2 separate regions of the Homo sapiens genome follow, and region 1 is linked to region 2. The links come from fine-mapping of genetic effects on gene expression. A gene starts in region 2. The other region holds a variant in brackets. All regions are shown on one strand. Distances are between the middles of the regions.

Region 1 (5,371 bases), 280 kb after region 2:
TGGGTGTGGGGATGAGGCAGAGATTGGGGGCACCTTGCAGGGTCATAGCAGGTGGCTGTGGTGAGATGGAGGAAGACACCTGGGGTACTGCTCTAGGCTGTCAGACATACAGAAGCTGGCCCAGCCAAGCCCAGGGGCTGCAAGGGACATCCTTTTGTGTCCCCAGTGATCTGCAGCTCTCAGACACCCTCAAGCACAGTGCCTCTTGCCCAGCCCAGCACTCTCAGTGGGGAGCCAGGTGGGAGAACAGGCTCGGAAGGGGACCTAGGCTTATGCAGCGAGCCGGGCAAAGCTGGAACTGGAGCCCAGGCCCCTGGATGCCCCCTGGCTTGTGGAGTTCTGGGATACTGAGGGGAGGGGACAGGGCATGGGAGTGCGGTGCTCTCACCTTTGACTTGAACTCATTCCCCAGGGGACAGGGGAGGCCTCCTCAGGATCCACAGATGCCCAGTCTCCCAAGAGGGGCCTGGTCCCCATGGAGGAAAACTCCATCTACTCCTCCTGGCAGGAAGGTAAGTTGGAGGACGTGCAAGGGCAGCCTCAGCCCCCCACACCCAGGGCTGGGTCTTTTTGGGACTGACGGAGCTGTCCTGGCCACCTGCCACAGTGGGCGAGTTTCCCGTGGTGGTGCAGAGGACTGAGGCCGCCACCCGCTGCCAGCTGAAGGGGCCGGCCCTGCTGGTGCTGGGCCCAGACGCCATCCAGCTGAGGGAGGCCAAGGGCACCCAGGCCCTCTACAGCTGGCCCTACCACTTCCTGCGCAAGTTCGGCTCCGACAAGGTGAGGTGCAGGGGTGGGAAAGGGTGAGGGGCTGACACCCTGGACCCTCCTGCTAATCCCCACCCGTGTGCCCTGTGCCCAGGGCGTGTTCTCCTTTGAGGCCGGCCGTCGCTGCCACTCGGGTGAGGGCCTCTTTGCCTTCAGCACCCCCTGTGCCCCTGACCTGTGCAGGGCTGTGGCCGGGGCCATCGCCCGCCAGCGGGAGCGGCTGCCAGAGCTGACCAGGCCCCAGCCCTGCCCCCTGCCACGGGCCACCTCTCTGCCCTCCCTGGACACCCCCGGAGAGCTTCGGGAGATGCCACCAGGACCTGAGCCACCCACGTCCAGGAAAATGCACCTGGCCGAGCCCGGACCCCAGAGCCTGCCGCTACTGCTAGGCCCGGAGCCCAACGATCTGGCGTCCGGGCTCTACGCTTCAGTGTGCAAGCGTGCCAGTGGGCCCCCAGGCAATGAGCACCTCTATGAGAACCTGTGTGTGCTGGAGGCCAGCCCCACGCTGCACGGTGGGGAACCTGAGCCGCACGAGGGCCCCGGCAGCCGCAGCCCCACAACCAGTCCCATCTACCACAACGGCCAGGACTTGAGCTGGCCCGGCCCGGCCAACGACAGTACCCTGGAGGCCCAGTACCGGCGGCTGCTGGAGCTGGATCAGGTGGAGGGCACAGGCCGCCCTGACCCTCAGGCAGGTTTCAAGGCCAAGCTGGTGACCCTGCTGAGTCGTGAGCGGAGGAAGGGCCCAGCCCCTTGTGACCGGCCCTGAACGCCCAGCAGAGTGGTGGCCAGAGGGGAGAGGTGCTCCCCCTGGGACAGGAGGGTGGGCTGGTGGGCAAACATTGGGCCCATGCAGACACACGCCTGTGTCCACCCTGGCCTGCAGGAACAAGGCAGGCCGCCTGTGGAGGACCTCAGCCCTGCCCTGCCCTCCTCATGAATAGTGTGCAGACTCACAGATAATAAAGCTCAGAGCAGCTCCCGGCAGGGGCACTCACGGCACACGCCCCTGCCCACGTTCATTGCGGCCAACACAAGCACCCTGTGCCGGTTCCAGGGGCACAGGTGACCTGGGCCTTACCTGCCACCCGTGGGCTCAAACCCACTGCAGCAGACAGACGGGATGGAAATCATTAGGACTCCATGTTGCTCTGCACGGCCGAGTGACACGAAGAGGCAGGCGGAGGGAGCTGTGAGGCTTACTTGTCAGACTCAGGAAGGAGCAACATGAGGGCCCAACTGGAGACCCGGAGGCCCGAGCTGGGAGGAGGCAGTGGGGGCGGGGTGCAGGTGGAAGGGATTTCAGAGACACCCTCGTCCAAAACACTTGTTCCCTGCTGAAACTCCAACAATTTGCAGATACTTCTGGGAACCCCAGGCGTCAGTCTCCTCATCTGTAAAGGAGAGAGAACCGATGACGTATCAGGCATAATCCTTGATGAGAGTTTGCTGCGTGCCTACTCAGTGCCAGGCGCTGGGGGACACAGCCGTGTTCAGGACAGCCTTGGTCCTGTTCTCCGGGAGCCGACATTCCAGGGGGAGAGAAGTTTCCTGAAGACTTCCATGCTGCGTTCCCTCCTCTGCTCCTGCTCCTGGCGCCATCCTAGGAGCCAGCCA[C/T]GCACGCAAGCGTCATGCCTCCAGGGCTCTGACTGCCCAGCCCCTCACCGCAACTCCACCTCAGCTGCACACACCCTTGGCACATCCTGAACCTCATTTTCATGACGGACACACAATTTTTGCTCTCTCCTGTCCAAGCCTCATCCTCTGGCCGCCACCTCCTTCCAGCTCACTTCCTTTAGTGCGGCCAGTACCGCCCCTGCCTAGGCATGTCGACCTGCAGGGACCCTTTTCTGGCTCTTCGAGGCCTCTGCCCACCATCCCCTCTTTGTTCTCCATAGTCCCTTCCCCCTGTTCTCTCTCGTTTCATCTTACTGGTCTGGCAAAGTCCCCGGCCTTGGGCGAGCCCAGACCTCCTCAGTGCCTGCACACAGCTGCCCACAGCCAGAGAAATCCATTTAAGCAGACTGCCTGCATCCTTCTTAACAGTGCAAGGCAGGCACTCCCTGCCACAAGAGACCCTGTTCCCTAGTAGGGCAGCTTTTCTCCTCCCCAGAACCTCCTGTCTATCCCCACCCAATGTCTCCTCACAGGCATATTGGGGAAACAGGTCGGGCTCTCCCACCGTATCTGCAAGTGTACTGGCATCCATCTGTCTTCTTCCTACCCCTACAGTAGAAACAGTGTCTGTCCCCAGCTGTGCTCTGATCCCGGCTCCTTTCACCTCAGAGCTTGGAAAATTGAGCTGTCCCCACTCTCTCCTGCGCCCATTCATCCTACCAGCAGCTTTTCCAGCCACACGCAAACATGCTCTGTAATTTCACATTTTAAACCTTCCCTTGACCTCACATTCCTCTTCGGCCACCTCTGTTTCTCTGTTCCTCTTCACAGCAAAAACTGTTCAAAAGAGTTGTTGATTACTTTCATTTCCACTTTCTCACCCCCATTCTCCCCTCAATTAACTCTCCTTCATCCCCATGATGCCATTATGTGGCTTTTATTAGAGTCACCAACCTTATTCTCCAAAACAAAAGCAACAAGGACTTTGACTTCTCAGCAGCACTCGGCTCTGGTTCTTGAAACACCCCCGTTACTTGCTATTCCTCCTACCTCATAACAATCTCCTTCCCAGCCTCTACTGCTGCCTTCTCTGAGTTCTTCCCAGGGTCCTAGGCTCAGATGTAGTGTAGCTCAACCCTGCTACACAAAGAATCTCCTGAAAGCCTGTAAAAATGTCCATGCATGTTCTGTGAGTGATCTACCAAGAAAATAAAAAATTTTAAAAATCAAATGCCCATGCCTGGGCCCACACGCAGGGGCTCTGATTTCATCAGTCTGGTAGGTGGGTTCTGGGCATCCACGCTCACTGGATTTCCGGATGATTGTAGTATGCAGCCTAGGCTGGGAACCACTGGCCTCAGCAAGCCAGTCATTCTCCAGGTGTCACAGACCCTCTAGGTGCTAATGACCCCGAAGGTCTGTCTTCAGTGCACACCTCCCCCTGAGCTCCAGATTTAGGAATCCCACTGCACACGAGACATCTGGATGTGGAAAAGACATCTCCAGATCCCATGGGTGAAAGGGGGTTGGGGGAATGGAGACTCTGGTGTTCTTCCAGGATGTGTGTGGACACAGAATGCAAAGCCTGGAGGGATGCTAGAGCCATAGGGAGGAAGATTTTGGCTCACTTATTCATGCAAGCACTTCCTGATGGGTAAGGTCTTAGAGCAAGCTGAGGCCAAGAGGCGGGCAGTCGAGGTGCTGCTGCAGGCACCCCCACTCCCTACAGTGGCAAGCCCAAGCCCAGCCCTTGGCAGCTCAAATCCCAGGACACGCTGAAGGTCACCCAGAGAGTCAGGGGCATGGCTAGAACCAGAACCCAGGACTCTGGGGACCCAGCATGGCATCCTTTCCTTCATTACAAATCTGAGCTGCTTTGTTTCCTAGGGATTTCTGTGATATTCCAAGGGGACTGTGGGAAAGAAAGTCCTTGGAAACCACCAGGACGCTAGAGGCCTGGCCTGGAGCCTCAGGAGTCTCGGCCACCAGAGGGCGCTGGGTCCTTGTCCAGGTCCAGTTGCTACGCAGGGGCTGCCTGTGCTGGGAGGCTCCCCAGGGGACACAGACCAGAGCCTTGCACCAGCCCAAGGAATGGGAGCCTGGGGTCCTCTCTGCTGGAGGACTGCCAGGACCCCCAGGCTGCCGCCTCTTCCTTTGCTCATTTGCTGTTTCACTTTGTCAATCCTTCCTTTCTTCGTGTGTTCATTCACATCCACTGTGTGCTGGCCCTGGGGAAATGTTAGATAAGACACATTAGCTGTGTGTCTTCATTGTCCTAACAAAGAACACACCCTGGAAAGAGCACCGCAGAGAGTCCCCATTCCCCCATCTCCCTCCACACATGGAATCTGGAGATGCCTTTTCCACATCCAGATGTCTCTGGTGCTGTGGGATTCTTAAATAAACAAACATTTCATACAGAATGTGAGATGATGGAGATGCTATGGGGAAAAATAAAGCAGAGGGAGGGCCTAGTGTGTGATGCGGGTGAGGCATCCAGGGATTGCTGTTTCAGCTGTGATCAGGAAAGGCCCTGGGAGGAGGCCACATCTGAGCAGAGACCTAAATAAAGTTGGAAACCTGTTGCTGAGATATCTGGAGAAGTGTTTCAAGGGCCGGGCACCGGGCATGGTGGCTCACGCCTGTAATCCCAGCACTTTGGGAGGCCAAGGCAGGTGGATCGCTGGAGGTCAGGAGTTTGAGAGCAGCCTGACCAACATGGAGAAACCCCATCTCTACTAAACATATAAAAATTATCCGGGCATGGTGGTTCATGCCTGTAGTCCCAGCTACTCGGGAGGTTGAGGCAGGAGAATCACTTGAACGTGGGAGGCAGAGGTTGCAGCAAGCCGAGATCACACCACTGCACTCCAGCCTGGATGACAGAGCGAGACTCCGTCTCAAAAAAAAAAAAGAAAAGAAAAAAGAAAAAAAAAGAAAAGTGTTTCAAGCAGGGGAACTGGCAAGTGGAGAGGCCCTGAGG
Region 2 (5,371 bases):
TCGTGATCCACCCGCCTCGGCCTCCCAAAGTGCTGGGATTACAGGCGTGAGCCACCGCGCCTGGCAAGGGACTTTGGTCTTTCTTGCTTGGGGCTGGGATGAGTGTGTACTTGTGAGAAGAAGGAGGCACAAGGCAGATTGGGTGGCCACAGCTGTAACCTGGAGCCACAGAGCAGGCTTCTGTTACACACTATTCTTCTTTTCTTCACTTTAACAGAACCATCCCTTGAGGTTTAGCTGGGGGCACCTGGCTGCCCAGCTACAGACTAGATTTTCCAGACTAATTTATATCAATTTTCTTTATTCCTTTAAAAGTTGTTTATTTATTGCACTTACATACTAAGATACCATTCTCAAAGGACCACGAAAGCAGAAATGGTTAATATATGAAGCTGTCTATAGGCATGATAGAATAAAAAGTTTAAAAATTATTTGGGTCAGGCTTAAATAACTTTAACAGGTTAAAAAAAGTGTTTGACAATATTCAACAAATAATTCTTCACCTAATTTCTTATTGAAGCAATCACCTTAATATTCATTGGCCTTGATAAATGTGAACACTGGTCATATTTATGTAAATAATGGTCATGTGGCTTTCTTGGCATATCTAAATTCATGTTAGATCTGGCTTAACCTGTGCTTATGTATGTATATGTTACAGTTATGTACATTAAATGTGTGTGTAAGAGTTGGAATTATTTGAAAGATAGCAAAATTTTAACTAGAAAAAATAAGTTAATATCTAATAATAGTTGACTTGTTGATTAAAATAAGTAGTTATTATGAAAGAGAAAAAAGGTGATTTCAAATTGATTCAGAAGAACTGGCCTAGCAACTAAGATTGTATGCTTTCCTTTTTTTTTAAAAAAAAAAAGAACGGATATAATGTTATGTGACAATTAAATACAGAAATTACAAAACTAGTTAAATTGATGTTGCCATTAAAGCAACATTAAATAGTTTTGGGGGAGAAGAAAGAAGCCGAGAAGATGGTATCTGTGCAGTTAAGATGGTCATGTCATTTGATACATGTAAACAGAAAGCAGCCTGAGGCCCACACCTGCACCATGCTGAAAGAGCTGACCAGCGTTATATGTTCAGTCCTAGATGAAATGCTGCATTTGTTTTTTAAACACTGGTATGCATTGTTTTAAAAATGTATAAAATAACAGTGAAAAGTTAAAGAATCGTAAGAATGTAGCTAAAGGTAAAAAAAATTTGCAAAGCCATAATTTTTATGATGAAACAATATATTTTTTATCTTTTACGTATAATGTTTTAATGCTTTTTTAGCCCAATGAAATGTGGAAGTGTTTTGTGATTTTTATCTTACTATAGTGATTGTTTTATAAACAAAGAAAAAATTAATTCAGGATTGCAGATATGGTAAACTATTAAAATAGTTTGGGTATTAAAATATGAAATAATTGGGTATTAATTCAAAATCCAAGAGTTGCCATTGAACAAACCTGTAGGCATAGGTAAGTGCTGAGGTGAAAGTGCCAACCAAAGCCGTTAGATTGAACATTTATGCCTGGAGGGAATCAGTAGAGGAACTGGCTGTGGACCTTCACCTCTGCATCCCCTTTGCTTTCTGCTGTAGCTGGGTATCACAAAAACAACAACAAAAGCCACTTATTTCTTAAAGACAGAGAAAGGATAGTTCCTTCCATTTAGGCATTCCTAAATTGCCTCCCCGGTGGCCCCTGCGCTCTTGGAGGAGGTCAAGGCAGAGCAGACCCTCAGGTGGGGGAGCGATGCACTTGACCCTGAGGACATCAGGTACCAGGCCCACTAGCCCCCGCAGGCGCGGAGCTGCGGCTGCAGCCACCAGCCTAGACGTGGCGCGCCCGCAGCAAGTGGCTGGACACCGCAGACCAGGCCCGCGTCCCCAGCAGCGCGGATCCCGGGGCCAGCCGCCCAGGCAGCAAAGTCAGGCGGTCGGCTTCGCCAGCAGCCGATGAGTCTCATCCTGTGGATTGCCCAGCGCCAGGGATCAGGATCCGGAGAGGTGTCCAGGAGGAGCAGACCCTCAGACCAGGTAGGCTGTGCACTCAGTGACCCTGACGCCATCCAAGGGAAGCTCCGCCATCCCGCGCCAGTGCCAGAGCTGCAACTGCAAACTGCGCGTCCTGGCACGAGCAGCGGTGGGGGCGGGTGGGGGAAGGAGCGAGTGACTCTCCAGGCGTCTTCCGCTACCTGACACCAGCCAGGCAGCCCCCAGGGCCAGAGCGTCAGCGCCGAAGCCAGGCTCATCCGGGAAGCCACTCCGGTGGCCGCGGGGTGCCCATGCCAGCACCAGATCTCTCTTCGGAAGGAGGAGCGGGGCGGGCTACACGGCCAGGCGGGCCCTCCCCTTAAGGCGGGGTGGGCCGCGCGCCTGCGATTTTCCGTCCGTGGTCCTGGGGCAGCCCTGGCCAGCCCAGGAGAACCCGCGAGCCCAGCGGCGCCTGCACCTGCGGCTTCCGGGAGCCGGGCGGCTTTGCGAGGCTCACTAGGTCTGAGAGGTCGGAGGCCGCCAGTGTCGCTGCTGAAGGGTGGACCAGGCGGGATCGCGGATTCTGGGCTAGATCGCAGACTTGGTATCGCGGATTGGGATTTGGATCGGGGATTTTGAGTTGGATCACGGATTGGGGGTTGGATCACGGATTGGGGTTTGGATCGCGGATTGGGGGTTGGATAGGGGATTTGGAGTTGGATTGGGGATTTGGGGCTGGGTGTGGGGCGAGGGGGAGTGAAAAGGTGACACGGAGCTGCCGCGGCTCAGGAGCCAGTGGTTGGGGGTCTGAGAAGAACTCACCACCTTGAAGAAGTTCTTCGGCTTTGGGAGCCGCAGGGGCCGGCGGTCCGGGGCTCCCTAGGCCACGTCTACAGGGGTTCGGGGTACCGAATCGGAAGATCCACAGGGCGCTGTCAAGGGCGAAGCCGCGGAAGTGGAGCGCTGCCTGGCGCGCAGGAGCAGAGACCTGGAAGCCGGGGACAGGCAGCACAGGCAGTGGGGTGGGGGCTCAGCCCAGGGTGGGAGGGGGTCCCCAGGCCCGGCTTCCCCGCAGCCCCTGGGATGGGGCCTCAGAGGGCACCCTCAGAGGGGTGGTGCCAAACGGAGCCTCAGCTGCTCTGCATCCCCCATAATTCCCCAGCTGGAGCGCTTGGTGGAGAATGTGAGTGATTTAACTCACCAAGCTAAGCATACACAGTGTTATTTTTAACCTACACGTTTAAAACATGGTGTTATATACATTATAGGAGGTGCCTAATGAGAGAACTCATTCCTCTATCAAAAAATACCGTGAGTCGGCCGGGCGCGGTGGCTCAGGCCTGTAATCCCAGCACTTTGGGAGGCCGAGGCGGGCGGATCACCAGGTCAAGAGATCGAGACCATCCTGGCTAACACGGTGAAACCCCGTCTCTACTAAAAATACAAAAAAAAAAAAAAAAATTAGCCGGGCGTGGTGGCGGGCGCCTGTAGTCCCAGCTACTCGGGAGGCTGAGGCAGGAGAATGGCGTGAACCCGGGAGGCGCAGCTTGCAGTGAGCCGAGATGGCGCCACTGCACTCCAGCCTGGGCGACAGAGCGAGACTCCGTCTCCAAAAAAGAAAAACAAACAAACAAACAAAAAACCGTGAGTCATTTTCAGTAGCGAAAAGCTCTCACCTAAAACTGTCCGTTTTACATCCGTATCCACCTGTGTAGATCGGTTCTTTACTGAAGGTTCTTAGAAGGAAACTTGGAAGTGGGAGGTGGGTTCTGTGTTCCTGAATGGGAAGACACATTTTTCTCAAAATGTGAGCTCTTTCTGTGATTATCAATTTTACATAAGCCGAATGAAAAAATCAAGGTTTTAACATTTTTGCATGACACCTACTGTCTTTTACTATTGTAATGACATTTGTAAAAATTTTAGGGCTGGGCGCGGTGGCTCAGGCCTGTAATCCCAGCACTTTGGGAGGCCGAGGTGGGCGGATCACGAGGTCAGGAGATTGAGATTGAGACCATCCTGGCAAACACGGTGAAACCCTGTCTGTACTAAAAATACAAAAAAAAAAAAAAAAAAAAAAAATAGCCGGGCGTGGTGGTGGGCGCCCATAGTCCCAGCTACTCCGGAGGCTGAGGCAGGAGAATGCTGTGAACCCGGGAGGGGGAGCTTGCAGTGAGCCGCCATCCAGAAGTGCTGGGATTACAGGTGTGAGCCACCGCGCCCGGCCTGAAAAGTGCATCTTCATTTTACAGGGAATTCTTTCAAATCAAATAATCAAAAACTGTAAAAGGGGGCAAAGTACTTTTTTGCAGATCTACAAGTTTCTTATGTAAATAGGAAAAAAAGCCTTTGCTTTTCTGGTATAAGAATTTAAATTAAAAGAGGAATGAAACTGTTTTCTATCCACAATGTGTGAGGATGTTTTTTATACTGCTGCCTGAAGTTTAAGTTGCTGATTACTTTTTAAATAGATAATTTGGTGGTAAGTACTATATTTTAAAAATGCGTATGCCCGTTACCCTTCAATTCCATTATACTAAAATACCCTTGGGAAATAGAGATACATGCACTTTGTTTTTCACAGCACTTATTTTAAAAAGAACCCATAGAATGGATCTTATAAGTAAATTTCAGTTGCATCCATAGGATGCAATAATATGTGACCATCAAAGGTGACAATAGATATAGAAGTACGTTGATGTGCGAAGATGTATTTTGTTTTAGCCAGCGAGGAAAAAAGAATCAGTTTGATTACACATTTACCAAACATTAAGAATTTAATATGGTAACTTTTATTTCAGTATTAAAATAGCAATTTTATTTATTACTTTTTTATATACAGAATTCGACACCAAATTTTGGAACTTAAAAAGAAGATTCTTAAAACTTACAATCCAGGTAAGACTTCTGATAGTGAATTTCTCATTTCTCATGGTGGTCCTACTCTTGGTTTAAAAAAATTAAGATGTAAGATTAAGGTAGTTTTGAAGGAAAAGAAAAGTTTAAAAAGATGTGTAAATTGCATGTATATATACATATATACATACATGTAAATTAGTTTCTTATATTTAACTTCTTTAGTTTGGAATTAAGAGTTATTTAAGAAGGTAGTTGTAGCTGATTTATAATCTCAAACAGTATTATCTGAAAAAAAATCATTTACTTAATTATGATCCCGAAAATCCTATATAATATTTATGTTTTCTCTATAGTCACATTGTAACAAATTGGACTTGTTATACATATGGATCTTCTAGTTCATTTTTGTAATAAGTTGTTTATTTTTATAATAAATTGTTTATATTTAGTAAATACATAATTACACTTGACCCATGAATAATGTGGGGGTTAGGGGCTCTGATTCCAGTGCAGCTGAAAATCTAAGTATAACTT

Evidence for each region. PIP is the estimated chance that this variant, and not a neighbour inherited with it, causes the effect.
Region 1: its variant is the best candidate, but not a certain one, in a credible set for the expression of FAM153A in whole blood (TOPMed, PIP 0.65).

What each region holds. Positions count from the first base shown.
Region 1 is chr5:177,500,152-177,505,522 of GRCh38, reverse strand. DOK3 (docking protein 3) reads left to right here. Exons shown (of 6, transcript NM_001308236.3): 4 at 413-512; 5 at 608-780; 6 at 863-3,619. The coding sequence ends at 1,540. Among named protein-coding and RNA genes, the nearest start is that of PDLIM7, 5.2 kb to the right of the region's middle. RefSeq lists enhancers at 1,064-2,015, 2,016-2,969, 3,469-3,518, 3,539-3,608, 3,619-3,668 and 1 more. The variant C/T (reference allele first, on the strand shown) is at 2,389.
Region 2 is chr5:177,779,954-177,785,324 of GRCh38, reverse strand. FAM153A (family with sequence similarity 153 member A) reads left to right here and starts at 2,426. Exons shown (of 23, transcript NM_001413826.1): 1 at 2,426-2,582; 2 at 4,821-4,876.